Linked DNA regions of Homo sapiens. The protein of the gene in region 2 interacts with the protein of the main gene of each other region in a biochemical or structural test. Each region holds a gene or a part of one and is shown on either strand. Other genes may lie near its edges.

Region 1 (7,025 bases), about 160 Mb from region 2:
ATCACTTGAACTCAGGAGTTCGAGACCAGCCTGGGCAAAATAGAGAGATGCCACCTCTATACAAATAAAAATAATAAAATGAGATCTGCCTTAGAGCTTTGAATCAGAGTGGGCCTTGCCAGCCACTGCTTCTAAACTGCTGCTACTCCCTCCCTCACACTTCAAAAGTCTGTCCTTCTGCCAGGCCTAGAGAGCTGTCTTTGTCAGATCTGAGCATCCCTGTAAGTGACTCAATGGCAGTGGAGACTGTCTGTCTCTAGACTGTGCAACCAGTTGTATATGAGCTCAGCCCTCCCTGGTCAGTCACCATATCCAAATGCTTTGAAAAGCTTCAAATGCCTTGCAAATGAGAAGTGGAATTTTTCCTTTCTCAATGCCCTCTGCAGTGGAGACAAGAGCTCAGTCCTGCCCCACGGCCAGTGGATTTCCAATATGGCTGAAAGAGTTGCTAAAGCGGCAAGGGCGTTTTAGCGGGTTAGGATTCTTCTTTCTACTGTGATTTTCATTTTCATCAGGCCAACTCCACCTCCTCTTTTGGCCAACATTTCCTTCGTCTTCCCCAAATGTCACTACCATTCCAACTTTTAGGACGTTATCTGCATGTGGCTCCTTTACATGGGGTCTCTGTAGGGGTGTTTCCCCACATCCACCCCTGCCTGGGAACTTTGAATGAAGGTTCTGACCGTCGCTCCCTGTTGCCTTCAGGAGGAAAGCTCTCCGCAGTCCGACATCCCAGCTCCTCCTAGTTCCAAAGCCCCTGGAAGACCCCAGCTGTCACCAGGTGAGTGGTCCTGGAGCCACAGCCTAGGTCTGGGTGCAGCAGCATGCCAGGCTGCTTCCTGAGTTCCTCTCCCTGCCTTCCAGGAAATTCTGGTTTCTTCTTCTCCCAACATGTCACTCAGCTAATGACCACGCAGCCCCAGAATCCCCCTTTCCTGCACCACCCACCCCAAACATGAAATCAGTGCCCTCTCTCCCTGCCTTCTGCAGAACACTCACGGGGCTTGGGTGAATGCAGCTGGTTCCTGAGTGACTCACGTAGTCACCAAACCCCTTGATCATTAGGTAGGGAAACGATGTCTCAGGAAGAAAAGTTGAAGTAACTATACCTGCTTATCTCTGAGGGGCATGGAGTGGCTGTTTTCAAATGTCTGAGGCACTGTATCTGGAAAAGAAATTGCTCTGTGGAGCCCTGAGGATGAACAAAGAACCAATGGGCAGATGTGAAATGGAAATGTTCTCTCTGAAAGGCTGTTTCCTAGTGTGGAGAGGGCTGTCTTGGGAAGTGCACTTGAAGCAGATTCTGGATAAGCGCTTGGTAGAGACGCAGAGTGAGTGGTTGGCCAGATTCTAGATCAATGATTGCCACACGCGCCTGATCATCAGAATCACTCGGGATGTCCCTTCCCCCATTTTTATTTTGAAAAATGTCCAACCTACAGAAAAGCTGACAGTAGAATACAATAAACATCAGAATATCTTTCACTTAAACTCACCAATTGTTAACATTTTGCACCATGAACTCGCCCTGCTCCATTCTATTTTTCTCCCCCGAGCCAGTTGAAAAGTTACAGACTCGTGACACTTCACCCTACACAGCTGCAAAAACGCAGTCTCCTGCATAATCACAATAGAATCATGGTATCTAGGACACTAAACATTCATATGATAGTATTATATAATGTATATTCCATATTCAAATTTCTCCCGTTGCTCCTGCTCAATGTCCTTGACAGGTTTTTTGTTGTTATCTTTTGTCTAGAGGCTCATCAAGGATCACATATAAACCTAGGATGATTTTGTGAATACAGAGTCCTAGGCTACTGGCTCTGATATTTTAGGACTGGAATGGGGCTCGGGAATTTGTATTTTAGAAAAAAACTTCCCATGTGATTCTAATGATCAGCTAGGTTTGAGATCAGTGGCCTTCTCTGATCATGTACCCCCTATAGTAAATATCTTTATGCATGCTACTCTTACATAAATTAGATTAATATTAGATTGCTTGATTAATAGATTAGATTAAATTAATAAACTTTAGGAAACATACACAAAAATAAAGAATAAGGTGAGGATCAGTGGTTCTAATACTTCTTCCTGTGGCCTCTGGCTCACCTTGCACTCCGATTTTCATTGCTTTGGATCCCGTGGGCTTAATTGACCTTTGGGATCCCTGCTAACCTTGTGGGTTGGTGAGGATATGCTGGTCCTTTGGTAATTACCTATAGGCTCCCTAGAAGCAGAGACTGAGTTTGTTCATGTGTTCATGACCTTCATGCTTCCCCAGGGCGAGATTTTCCCCACAGTTTACTAAGGTTAATAATTGCCCCACAAATTAAAGGGTAAGAGGTTGGGGGCCCTATTTGAAGAGGTTTCATCTGTGTGTGGCAGGGGCTGGCCAAGGATGTTCATTCACCATCTTCTTTTGTTTTACTCCCTACTTTTTCCATTCAGGCCAGAAACAAAAAGAAGAGCCTAAGGTAACATTTTTCCCTCATACTGTTTCAAGTGGTAGAAGATGGGATAGCTTGGGCTATCAACCACAGACATGTCTGTCTGGATTATAGGAAGAGCCCCAAAGGGAGGGTCGAACCAGTTGCTACCTTACAGAGTCCATGAGCTAGGGACCTTCTTAATAGCCTCCTCCACTATCATGCACACACTTCCTACTACCCAAGCTAGTGGGCCAGATCTTACTCAGTAGGAATTCCTGTCCAAGCAAGGGTTGGGCTAAAGGACCTCTGAAGGCCTTTTAGGCTACTGTGAAACCAGTTACTTACTGGCCTCTCCCCTGCTGTATTGGGTACCCCCTGTGCCAAATCACGAAACTGCGGTGATCCAGGATGTTGAGAGAAAGCCTCAGACACTCAGGAGTTCCCTTTGTTTCCTCCCCACTCAGGAAGTGAAGCTCAGTGTTCCCATGCCCTACACACTCAAGGTGCACTACAAGTACACGGTAGTCATGAAGACTCAGCCCGGGCTCCCCTACAGCCAGGTCCGGGACATGGTGTCTAAGAAACTGGAGCTCCGGCTGGAACACACTAAGCTGAGGTGAGCTCCATGCAGGCAGCTGTGAGGGGTACAGTGGGAACCTTGTGCTGGCCTGGAGGAGGGAAGAGGAGGATGGTTTTTGTGATGATGTTCTTTGACTGGATTCTTACTCATTATCCCCACCCAGCTATCGGCCTCGGGACAGCAATGAGCTGGTGCCCCTTTCAGAAGACAGCATGAAGGATGCCTGGGGCCAGGTGAAAAACTACTGCCTGACTCTGTGGTGTGAGAACACAGTGGTGAGTGCAATGAGGGGCATCTAAAGTTACATTTCCACTGAGCCACTTCCTCAACAATTTGAAATTTATCAAGCACCTTCTGTGTACTAGGCACTATATGTGGTGTTGGGGATATGGTGTGTAATAAGTCACAGCTCTGCCTCCCTTTTACCTGCATCCTCACCCCATTTGCAGCAGGGAGAGAGTTTCCCACAAGAGAACAGCAGGCCCAGCAGGGCAGGAGCTCACAGAAAGCCTCCTGCCCCTCCATCAGCTCCCTGCCTGACTGTGTCAAACATCCCATCCATTACTGTCAAGCAAGGTTGGAATGAAGTCATATCATAGCTTAAGGCTCAGCTCATAGCCATTCTTCACCTTTTTTTTTTTTTTTTGAGATGGAGTCTCACTCTGTCGCCCAAGCTGGGTGTGATCTTGGCTCACTGAAACCTCTGCCGCCCAGGTTCAAGAAATTCTCCTGCCTCAGCCTCCTGAGTAGCTGGGATTACAGGCACCTGCCACTGCACCCAGCTAATTTTTGTATTTTTAGTAGAGACGGGGTTTCACCATCTTGGCCAGGCTGGTTTTGAACTCCTGACCTTGTGATCCACCTGCCTCGGCCTCCCAAAGTGCTGGGATTACAGACATGAGCTGGGAGAAGAAGAGTGAAAGAGAATGAGCCTAGAAAAGGGCAGTGTATAAAGCTGTTTAAGGTATCTTCCCCGTTCAGAAAATTGCCTTCAGGAAATACAGCCACTGGGGATGAGACTCCCTGGTGTCTCTGGCTGAGACAAAAGGCCCCAGGATCCTGGGGGTAAGAGTGAGTGTGAGTGTAAGGGGTCTCTTGGAAGTCTGAAAAGTCACTCTAGGTTTTCCAGCTGTCTGTCTTTGGACTAACCCCTTCAGCATCTTTTTTAAAAGATTCTTCCTAGAAGGAGTTCTGCTCTAAATGTGAACTACTTCACTTAAACTTTTTTTTAATTAAAATTTTTTCCTTTGACAGCAGCTTCAATCTATTTGGTGGCTGCACATAGCCAACCCTCTTACAACTCCCCACAATCTTTTGCAATTTAATCCAGGCTCAGGAGTCACTGTTGAATGTTCTTTATCACTATCCATTACTTTTGGAGGCAACAAAGCAGGCTTTCACTTACTAGGAGAAAGAAAACCAGGCGCAGTGGCTCATGCCTGTAATTCCAACACTTTGGGAGGCTGAGGCAACATGGTGAAACCCCATCTCTACTGAAAATACAAAAATTAGCTGGGTGTGGTGGTGTGCACCTGTAGTCCCAGCTACTTGGGAGGCTGAGGCAGAATTGCTTGAACCCAGGAGGCGGAGGTTACAGTGAGCTGATATCATACCACTGCACTCCAGTCTGGGTGACAGAGAGATTCTGCCTCAAAAAAAAAAAAAAAAAAAAAAAAAAAAAAAAAAAAAAGAGGCCTGGTATGGTTTATGCCTGAAATCCTAGCACTTTGGGAGGCCGAGATGGGCCAGATCACCTGAGGTCAGGAGTTTAAGACCAGCCTGGCCAACATGGTGAAACCCCATCTGTACTAAAAATACAAAAAAAAAAGAAAAGAAAAGAAAGAAAAATAAAATGAACTAACATTTATTAAGCATCTACTCTATGCAGGAACACTTACCATTAACCAAGTCTAAATATTTATACATATTTAGAAGAGTACTGCCACAGAGTAAGTGTTCAATAAATGTCAACTACTATTATTGTATGTCATCTCATTGAATTCTTCTAGCCTCAATTTCAGGTGAGGTAACTGAGGTTCTGAGAAGTTACACTGCTTGCTTAGGGACACAGAGCTGGTAAGCAGTGGAGGTGGGATACAAACCTTTCTCTGTGGACTCTCTAGGGCCATTTCCACCTCATTGTATTGCCTCTCAATAAAAATATACCAACGTTCAACAAACAACATTAAGAAGCTAGAACTTATAATGCTCGGTACATACAAGCCTAGCAGCATTTCTAATGTTGATTTGTTAAATTCTATGATTCACATCTGTAGAAACCGCATCCTTCTCCTTCATTTGTGAAGCAAAAGTGACAATAATGTGGAAGAAGTCTAAGATCATAAGTCTAAGATGTATAAGAAATGTTGTTACAGATAAAACAAGTATGGCATTGTGCAGTGGTTTTTGAACTTTAGCAAGTATCAGAATTCCCTAGAGGACTTAAAATACAGATTGCAGGATTCACCTTCAGGGAGTTTCTGATTTAGTAGTTTTGGGATGGAGTTGAAAGTCTGCATTTCTAACAAGGTCCCTAGTGTTGCTGTTAGAGTTGATGCTAAGAAAGCCAGTTTTGACTTAGGGCTCTGTCCCCATCTGTAAAGAAATAATAATGCCCATTCTACCTGTCTCAAGATTATTGTAAGGTTTCAGTAAGATATTTTAAGACTGTATATGATTTTGCAGACCTTTTGGTTTCATTTATCCCAGGGGTCCCCAACCTCCAGGCCACGGGCCAGCACAGGGCTGCACAGCAGGTGAGCTGCAGGTATACTGGCCTGAGCTCTGCCTCCTGTCAGATCAGCAGCAGCATTAGATTCTCATAGGAGTGTGAACCCTATTGTGAACTGTGCATGCAAGGGATCTAGGTCGCATGCTCTTTATGAGAATCTAATGCCTGACGATCTGAGGTGGAACAATTTTATCCTGAAACCACCCCCCAACCCACCACCCACCACCATTCATCTAAAAACTGTCTTCCATGAAACTGGTCCCTCGTGCCAAAAAGGTTGGGGACTGATTTACCCAACCATCCAGTATTCATAAAGAGCATATAAGCTCTACACAAGGCACTGATCACAAACTTTATGAGTTTATATCCCAGGTTCTACTTTGACATTTCGCTGTTTCCTTTAGTGATGTTCAGTGTTCACTTGGCAGGAAATTGGGAAAATTAACAGGCCCTTTATTATTTCAGGGTGACCAAGGCTTTCCAGATGAACCCAAGGAAAGTGAAAAAGCTGATGCTAATAACCAGACAACAGAACCTCAGCTTAAGAAAGGCAGCCAAGTGGAGGCACTCTTCAGTTATGAGGCTACCCAACCAGAGGACCTGGAGTTTCAGGAAGGGGATATAATCCTGGTGTTATCAAAGGGTAAGTGCTACTCCAAGACTATAGAAACAAATTTACATGTTAGCAGAAACAAGGTCAAGGGCAGAGAGAAGAAAATATCAATAATCTACAAACAAAACTTTAGCCAGTGTTTTCAACCCCCTTCCTAGCATCTAGCTGGAGGGAGCAAAGTTGAGCACTCAGACTTTCCCTGTCTATTGCTCTAGTAGCCAGGAAAGCAACAAGAAGCTGAGTTGTTTTGTTTTTGTTTTTGTTTTTGAGACAGAGTCCCCCTCTGTTGCCCAGGCTGGAGTGCAGTGGCACAATCTCGGCTCACTGCAACCTCCCCCTCCTGGGTTCAAGCAATTCTCCTGCCTCAGCCTCCTGAGTAGCTAGGATTACAGGCGCCCACCACCATGCCTAGCTAATTTTTGTGTATTTAGTAGAGATGGGGTTTTGCCATGTTGACCAGGCTGGTCTCAAACTCCTGGCCTCAAGTGATCCAACTGCCTCGGCCTCCTAAAGTACTGAGATTACAGGCATGAGCCACCGCACCTGGCCGGCGATAAACATCTTGATTATTAAAGAGGAGTATGCTTTGGAAACCATGGATTCTCATTCCCAGAGGTAACAAATTGGGCTGGAATCACTTTGCCTTTGCATCAAGCTGTATGACCT
Region 2 (7,025 bases):
TTTTCAAAGCCTGGGAACCCCCTCTGCAAAATACAGTGTTGCTCAGAAGTACAGTACCTCTGTACTGCAGCCTCTGGCTGCATCAGAGTGGACACCCAGAAGTGACCCGCCCACCTCCATTTCACTCTCTAACAGTGGGGGCAGCACCTGGAGGCACCCCTAGAAGTCCCCTAGAAGCTTACACTGAACTATAAGTTCCCAGCCAAGCCCCACAGCCTGGCCTCCCAGGTTCTCTATGGAAGGACCCTTGCAGCCCTCAGCCTCAGCTTTTCAACAAGTCCTATAGGCGCCAGTCACGCTGAAATGCAGCTCCTCAAAGGTGTCCTCAACTTCCCTGACTCCAGGCCTTTGCTCAAACCGTCCCCTTCACCCCTGCTCAGTGGTGAAAGCCCAGGCTGCGTGATCAAAGGTTGATTAGTAAGGGTTTGTGGAGGTTGGGCACTCCACTGCAGGCAAAAGAATGGGAAGCCCGGAGGGCCAGCACTCCTCACCATTGTACGTAAGTGTCCAGGGATCCTGCCCGCAGCGGCAGGAGGTCCCGAGCCTCCTTCACCCAGAAGTGCAGCTCCCCGCTCGGGGGCAGTCCTGCGCCTGCGGAGAGGCTCGGCTCAGGCCCGCACACGGATGGAGTCCACCGCCCCCAAACCCGGGGACTGGAGTCTCCCGCTTTTCAGGGCGTGTCCAGCTTGGCCTCTCCGGCTGTCACTCACCCTCGGAGCCGGCGGGGACGTACTTGAGGGACAGGGCGAGTAACCCGCGGCTCGGAAGGTCGTCGGGAGAGGGTGGGACCTGCGAGAGGCGGGCTTATCGTGGAGCAGGGGCTAATGGAAAGGGGCCTCAGGAGGGTGGGGTCTGCAGACCCGGATGGGGTGCGGCTAGAAGAGACGGCGGGGCCTGCAGGGGCAGAACCTAGGGGTCCTAGCGCCCTCGGGGAAGGGGCCGTGGCCGGCCGGGCTTCGCCTGGGGCCATGAGGTTAAGAGGTTGAGGGGAGGTTCTGTCGAAGGCGGGGTGTGAGGGGGCTGCGGGAGAGCCTGGTGGGGTAAATGCAGGAGACCCGGGCCGCAGGTCTCCCCACGCGGCCTGGCTGCCTCACCCGGGGCTGCAGGGGGAGCCAGGTGGGCTCAGAGCCCCAGTCCCACGTGTCCAGGGGCACTTCAACTTCGCCCAGAAAGATGTTGCGACCCAGGCTTTCGCGGTGCCACACAGACAGGCTCAGCACGCGGCCCTGAAGCTCGGCCTGCGGGACGGAGTACTGAGGACAGGAGGTGAGCTTTAGTGGAGCACTGCTGGTGGCCCGCGTAGATGCTGCGCGAGTTGGCTGAGGCAGGTCCTACCGCGTTCCTACCATGATGGAATTCTGGGGAGCCCCTAAGGGCATTAATGGGGACCTGCACTATCACCACGCCCACCACGAGGCTGACAACACTGGATAACGAGTTAATGGGCCCCCTCCGCCGATCCTCCGGGCAATGACGTTACTGGCTGCCCTTGCCACCTAGCCCCGCAGGAAGGGGGCGTCCAGTTCATTAACGGGGAACCGCATCGTGGTCACAGCCTCACCCGGAGAGTCTCGTTGAAAACCGGATTCAGATTCCGTTTCTTCACCGCCGTCTTGCGCTTGCTCTGCTTATCCGGGAGGAGGTAGCTTTTGACGTAGCTGGGGAGGTGAGAACCCGAGGTGAGGAGGGGCCCTCCCAGAGCCTTCTCCCCTGCCTGTGGGCTCCCCCAGCCACCATCCCGAACACGTGCCAGGCCTCGTGCTAAGCGCTTTACAGGGATTGTCTCGCTTAATCGCACGCCTCCCAATAACGCTGTTGTTCCCATTTTGAAGATGAGGACGAGGAGGCCGAGACCCTGTGAATGGTGGGCTGGGCTGTGACAGCCGCGCCCCGCTTGGCCGGCGGGGCACTCACGGGTCCGAGCGGCGGCGCCGGGCGGCGGCCAGGCCCTGGCACTGGATCACGTGCACGCGCAGCTCGGCGGCGCCCGGCTCGTAGTGCAGCGCGAAGTGCACGGAGCCGCGGACCTGCACCGCCTCCGCGTCGCCTGACAGGCTCATCTGGCTGCCGCTCAGCTGCGGACGGGAGTGGGTGGGAGTCAGGGCCGCTCGCAGGGCTCACGTCGGGGCCGCGGGCAGCGCGGAGGCTTCAGACCCGGGTCATAGGTGGCAGGCTGGGGGGCTGCAGCGGTGGGTCCCGCGGCGAGGGAGGGGCAGGCAGGGGCTACGCATCGGAACGGGTCCACCCCCCGGCCGCCCGGGTCCCCTCCCTCCCGCCTCACCGTGGAGGAGTTAAGGCTGGACACCGAGGAGCTGCTGCTGAGCATGCGGTCGAGAGAGGGGTCGGGCCCCGGGGCCTCCTCCCCATTCTCCAGGATCTGGGACGCGGCCTTGGTCTGCAGAGGGGGCAAGTGACGGGGCGCCCCTTCTTTCCCCACCCCTGCCCCGAGCGCCCTGGGTCGCGGGCGGCTCGCAGCCCTGGGCAGGAGCGCTCCCCGCCCGGAGTCCGCTCCGGATGTTGAGAGCAGCCACGGGCCACTCCCGCCTACCTGGGCTTGCTGGGGCCGCGGCTCCTGCTCTCCCCCCGACGCGGGCTCCAGCTCCGGGTCAGCCTCCTCGGCACAGACCTGTTGGTCTCCTTGGCCAGGATCTGGGGTGGGGCACGAGATGCTAAGCGAGCCCTCTCCTGCCCTCCCCTAAGCAAATTTGTAGGAACTGGTTTACAACCCCAGCGAGCTGCAGATTCAGGCCCCGGTGCTGCCCTGGGATCGTCCCCACCTCCGACGCGGGGTGGGAGTGGGGGTGACGAGGGTGAACACAGGTGGTTGGGGCCCCTTAGAGCTGCCTCTGACCCGCGAAACCTCTCCGTGCTCCCCAACAGGCGCTCCCACTCACCTTCCTGGGCCTGGGACGCCTCCTCAGGATCTGAAGCCTTTAGGGGGACAGAAGGCGATGGGAAATCAGGTCCCTGAAGGAAGAAAGGGGTAGAGGTCACAGTACGGGGGCTGGTGAGGAAGAGGTCAAAGGTCATATTGGGGTCAGAGGTCATAGGGCTCCAGCCAGCTACCCCAGTTTCAGGTTTAGGGCAGCCCTCCGGGCAGGGCTGGCAGCCAGCTGCAGGAGCGGTGAGACCAGTGCTTCACAGCCCACCCCGCAGGGCTTGTGCCGCCTGACTCCCTACTCCCATTGGTGGGGTCATTCGTACCTGAGTCCTCCACCTCTGCCAGGCCAGGCCAGTCCCATTCCTTTCTCACTCCTTTTTTTATTTTTATTTTTTATATTGACCCATTGGTAGACAACCTTTTTTCTTTTTTTAAATTTATTCTTATTATTTTTAATTGAGACAGAGTTTCACTCTTGTTGCCCAGGCTAGAGTGCAATGGTGTGATCTTGGCTCACTGCAACCTCCGCCTCCTGGGTTCAAGCGATTCTCCTGCCTCAGCCTCCCAGTAGCTGAGATTCCAGGTTATGCACCATCATGCCCAGCTAATTTTGTATTTTTAGTAGAGATGGGGTTTCTCCATGTTAGTCAGGCTGGTCTTGAGCTCCTGACCTCAGGTGATCTCGGCTTCCCAAAGTGCTGGGATTATAGGCGTGAGCTGCCACGACCGGCCTTTTTTTTTTATTTATTTTTTATAGACATGGGGGGCATTTTGCTATGTTGCCCAGGCTGGTCTTGAACTCCTCGGCTCAAGCGATCCTCCCACATCAGCCTCCCAAAATGCTGGGATTACAGGCATGAGCCACCGTGCCTGGCCCCACTTCACCCCTTAATAGCCAGATTCAGAAGTTCCCTTAGAGGCTGGGTCCATATACCACTCACTGTTCACCACCGTTCACCACTGTTTACCACCATTCACCACCGTTCCCCACCGTTCACCACTGTTCCACCCAGGAGGTGATGAGGTGCAGACACAGGAAGGAACATTTCCAGGGTCTCCCCATTCCCAGGCTGGGGCTCTTTCCCCCCTGCCCCCTGCACATTCCACCTCCCCTCCAGGGACACTGTACTCACATGTTGGCTCATTCACTTACCTCAGTCTCCCTGAGCCTCTCCTGAGGGGCCTCATCAATGGTGAGCCTAGGAGTAGGGAGAGGACGCTCTCAGAGGGAGGGACCCTGGTGACTGGTGGGCACCATCTCCCCCTTCCTGAGACTCCTCCTCACCTGGGCTCTGGCCCCTCTTCCTTCTCTTTCACAGCAGCCTCAGCCTCCCTGTCGTGGCCTGGAGCCTGGTCTCCTGGGCGCAGGTGAGAAGTTCTGTGAGCCCCCATGCTCAGGAAGCCTGGCTGTGACTCGGGAGAGGCCCTGGGAGATACCCACCCACCCCATGCCCACGGAGGGGCATTGCCCACTGAAAGACACACAGTACTGGGGGCAGCCAGGACTGGAGCCCTAGTGGTCCTCTCTCCCTGTCCACATACAGCCAGCGCCCTGGACGGCACATGGCTTGCCCTGCCCCGAGGATCTCCTCTCACCCCTGGTGCTCTTCTTCCTGCGCATAGACGCTCGGACAAGGTCAGAGCCGAAGTGGGCATTGTGGTGCCGCTGGGAGCGTGCTTCCTGGAACCAGTCCCCTGTCAGGATCTTCAGCTGCCCAGGGTCTGCCACTGAGGCCCGGAGCTTGCTGGAGGAAGGGGGAGGGTGTGGCTGTCATGACTCACCCAAGCAACATTCCCGCCACCTACATTGTTAACAGGCTTGGGACCAGGGGCCAGGGACCCAACAGCAAATCAGACTTGATCTGTGCTGTGGAGGAGCTCGGGCTGCTGGGGAGACCAAGTCCAGAAGAGACAAGTACACTGTAGTGAGGTGGATGATGTGATAGAAGTAAGAAGAGCCAGCTCTGCCTGTGAGAATCCAGGAGGGCTTCCCAGAGGAGGTGACATTTGAATTGCCTTTATTTATTTATTTACTTAATTATTTTGAGATGGAGTCTCCCTCTATGCCCAGGCTGGAGTGCTGTGGCGCAATCTCAGCTCACTGCAACCTTCACCTTCCAGGCTCAAGTGATCCTCCCACCTCAGCCTCCTGAGTAGCTGGGACTACAGGCGTGTGCCACCATGCCCAGCTAATTTTTTATATATTTTTTTGTAGAGACGGGGCTTTTCCATGTTGCCCAGGCTGGTCTCTAACTCCTGGACTCAAGCAATCCACCTGCCTCAGCCTCCCACAATGTTGTAAGTCACTGTGCCCAGCCTTGAATTTCTTCTTAAAAGACAAATTGGAACTCTCCAGGTAGAGAAGGATAATAATTATTATACTTTTAATTTTATTATTTTTTTTTGAGACAGGGTCTTGCTCTGTTGCCCGGGCTGGAGTGCAGTGGCATGATCATGGCTCATTGCAGCCTGACCTCCTGGGTTCAAGCAATCCTCTCACCTCAGCTGCCTAAATAGCTGGGACTACAGGCGCACACCACCACGCCAGGCTAATTTTTTATATTTTGTAGGAATGGGGTCTCACTGTGTTGTCCAGGCTGGTCTTGAATTCCTGGGCTCAAGCAATCCTCCCGTCTCAGCCTCTCAAAGTGCTAGGATTACAGGCGTTGCCACTATCTCTGGCCAATTCCTCTTAAATCAGTGAAGTAGGACTCCTTAGCCCCATTTTACAGACGACGAGCATGGTGCTCAAGGAGGTCAGGTGAGTTGCCAAGGCTACGTAGCTAGGAAGTGTCTGTCCCCAAACATTGCTTGTAACGCCCATGCTCTTCTACAACTGTGCTCTTCCAGGAAGAAGTACCAGCATAGGCATAGAAGTGAAGAGTGGGTTCAGGGACTGGGGAGCACCTGAGTGGCTGGAGGGGTCACTTTGTGTCTGTGTGTCGGGTCGGAGTTATGGTGAAAGAGGAGATGGTGGGGGCTGGCAAGGACCGACCAGGGAGGCCCAGTGGACCATGCCTAGGAGCTTGCCCTTGATACTGGGGAGCCAGGGGAAGTTTTCAGCGGGGATATTAAGGACGGATCTGGCCAGGCACGGTGGCTCGCGTCTGTAATCCCAGCACTTTGGGAGGCTGAGGCGGGTGGATCATCTGAGATCAGAGGTTCAAGACCAGCTTGGCCAACATGGCGAAAACCCATCTCTACTAAAAATACAAAAATTAGCTGGGCATGGTGGCATGTGCCTATAATCCCAGCTATTTGGGAGGCTGTGGCAGGAGAATCGCTTGAACCCGGAGGGGTGGAGGTTGCAGTGAGCCAAGATTGTGCCACTTCACTCCAGCCTGGGCGAAAAAATGAAACTCTGTCTCAAGAAAAAAAAAAAAAAGCAGACAGATCTGGGGAGCACCAGCTGCAGGAGGTGGGCCCAAGAGGCAAGCCTGGAGGCAGGGAGGCTGGCGAGAAAGCTGGTGCAGTCACCCCTGGAGAAGTGATGAGCTGTGAGCTGGCCAAGGCCAGAGGAGACTGAAGGGCAAAACCAAGAACCACGCAGACATCTGACAGGCAGTGGTGTCGGTAGGGAGCAGGATGGGGGCCACTCAAGCCTCTTGGTGCTCCCCGGCCAGGGTCTGCCCTGCCTTACCTGACCCGCCCCTCCTCCAGCTGGCGCAGGCGGGCATCTCGTTGGAGGACGCCAGCAATGGCCTCCTGCTCCTCCTCTGTCAGGAAGCTGAGGTCCAACAGTCCTTCAGTCTCAGGCTTTGGCCCATGCGCCATGGGGAGGGAGGGCAGAGCCCAAAGCCCCTCTTGCGATGGGTGGCCCCTCTGGGGCATCAGCTGGGGCTGTGCCCCAGCTGGGCACACGGAGCTTCCTGGGGGCAGACCGAGGGTCAGGTCAAGCCCTGCACAAATGCTTGGCACATCCTAGAACCAACAGCCCTTTTCTCCCCAAACACTTGGCCGGGTATGGGTAGGGTGCCACCCCAGGATGGCTGAGCTCAAGGTGGGGTGAGAGACACTCATGCACACATGCATACACTAGCCCTTGAACACACTTGGAGACACAGTGGAAGAAGCAAGAGACACACATGCACACACCCTGAGGTAGGGCCACACAGGACTGCAGCGATGGAACACACAGACACAT

The links. The genes of interacting proteins can lie anywhere in the genome.
Region 1: the proteins of SYTL1 (region 2) and NCF2 form a complex in vitro, tested with the Homo sapiens proteins (one study listed by BioGRID).

What each region holds. Positions count from the first base shown.
Region 1 is NC_000001.11:183,559,460-183,566,484, reverse strand, and holds part of NCF2 (neutrophil cytosol factor 2), read left to right. Parts: intron 1-705; coding exon 706-781; intron 782-2,454; coding exon 2,455-2,480; intron 2,481-2,899; coding exon 2,900-3,051; intron 3,052-3,178; coding exon 3,179-3,290; intron 3,291-6,211; coding exon 6,212-6,389; intron 6,390-7,025. UniProt on the Homo sapiens protein: Subunit of the phagocyte NADPH oxidase complex that mediates the transfer of electrons from cytosolic NADPH to O2 to produce the superoxide anion (O2(-)).
Region 2 is NC_000001.11:27,345,022-27,352,046, reverse strand, and holds part of SYTL1 (synaptotagmin-like protein 1), read right to left. Parts: intron 6,751-7,025; coding exon of another isoform or gene 6,713-6,750; coding exon 6,522-6,712; intron 4,627-6,521; coding exon 4,478-4,626; intron 4,243-4,477; exon of another isoform or gene 4,240-4,242; coding exon 4,167-4,239; intron 4,081-4,166; coding exon 4,035-4,080; intron 2,968-4,034; coding exon 2,895-2,967; intron 2,650-2,894; coding exon 2,549-2,649; intron 2,396-2,548; coding exon 2,282-2,395; intron 2,076-2,281; coding exon 1,915-2,075; intron 1,659-1,914; coding exon 1,562-1,658; intron 1,254-1,561; coding exon 1,095-1,253; intron 790-1,094; coding exon 711-789; intron 592-710; coding exon 492-591; intron 1-491.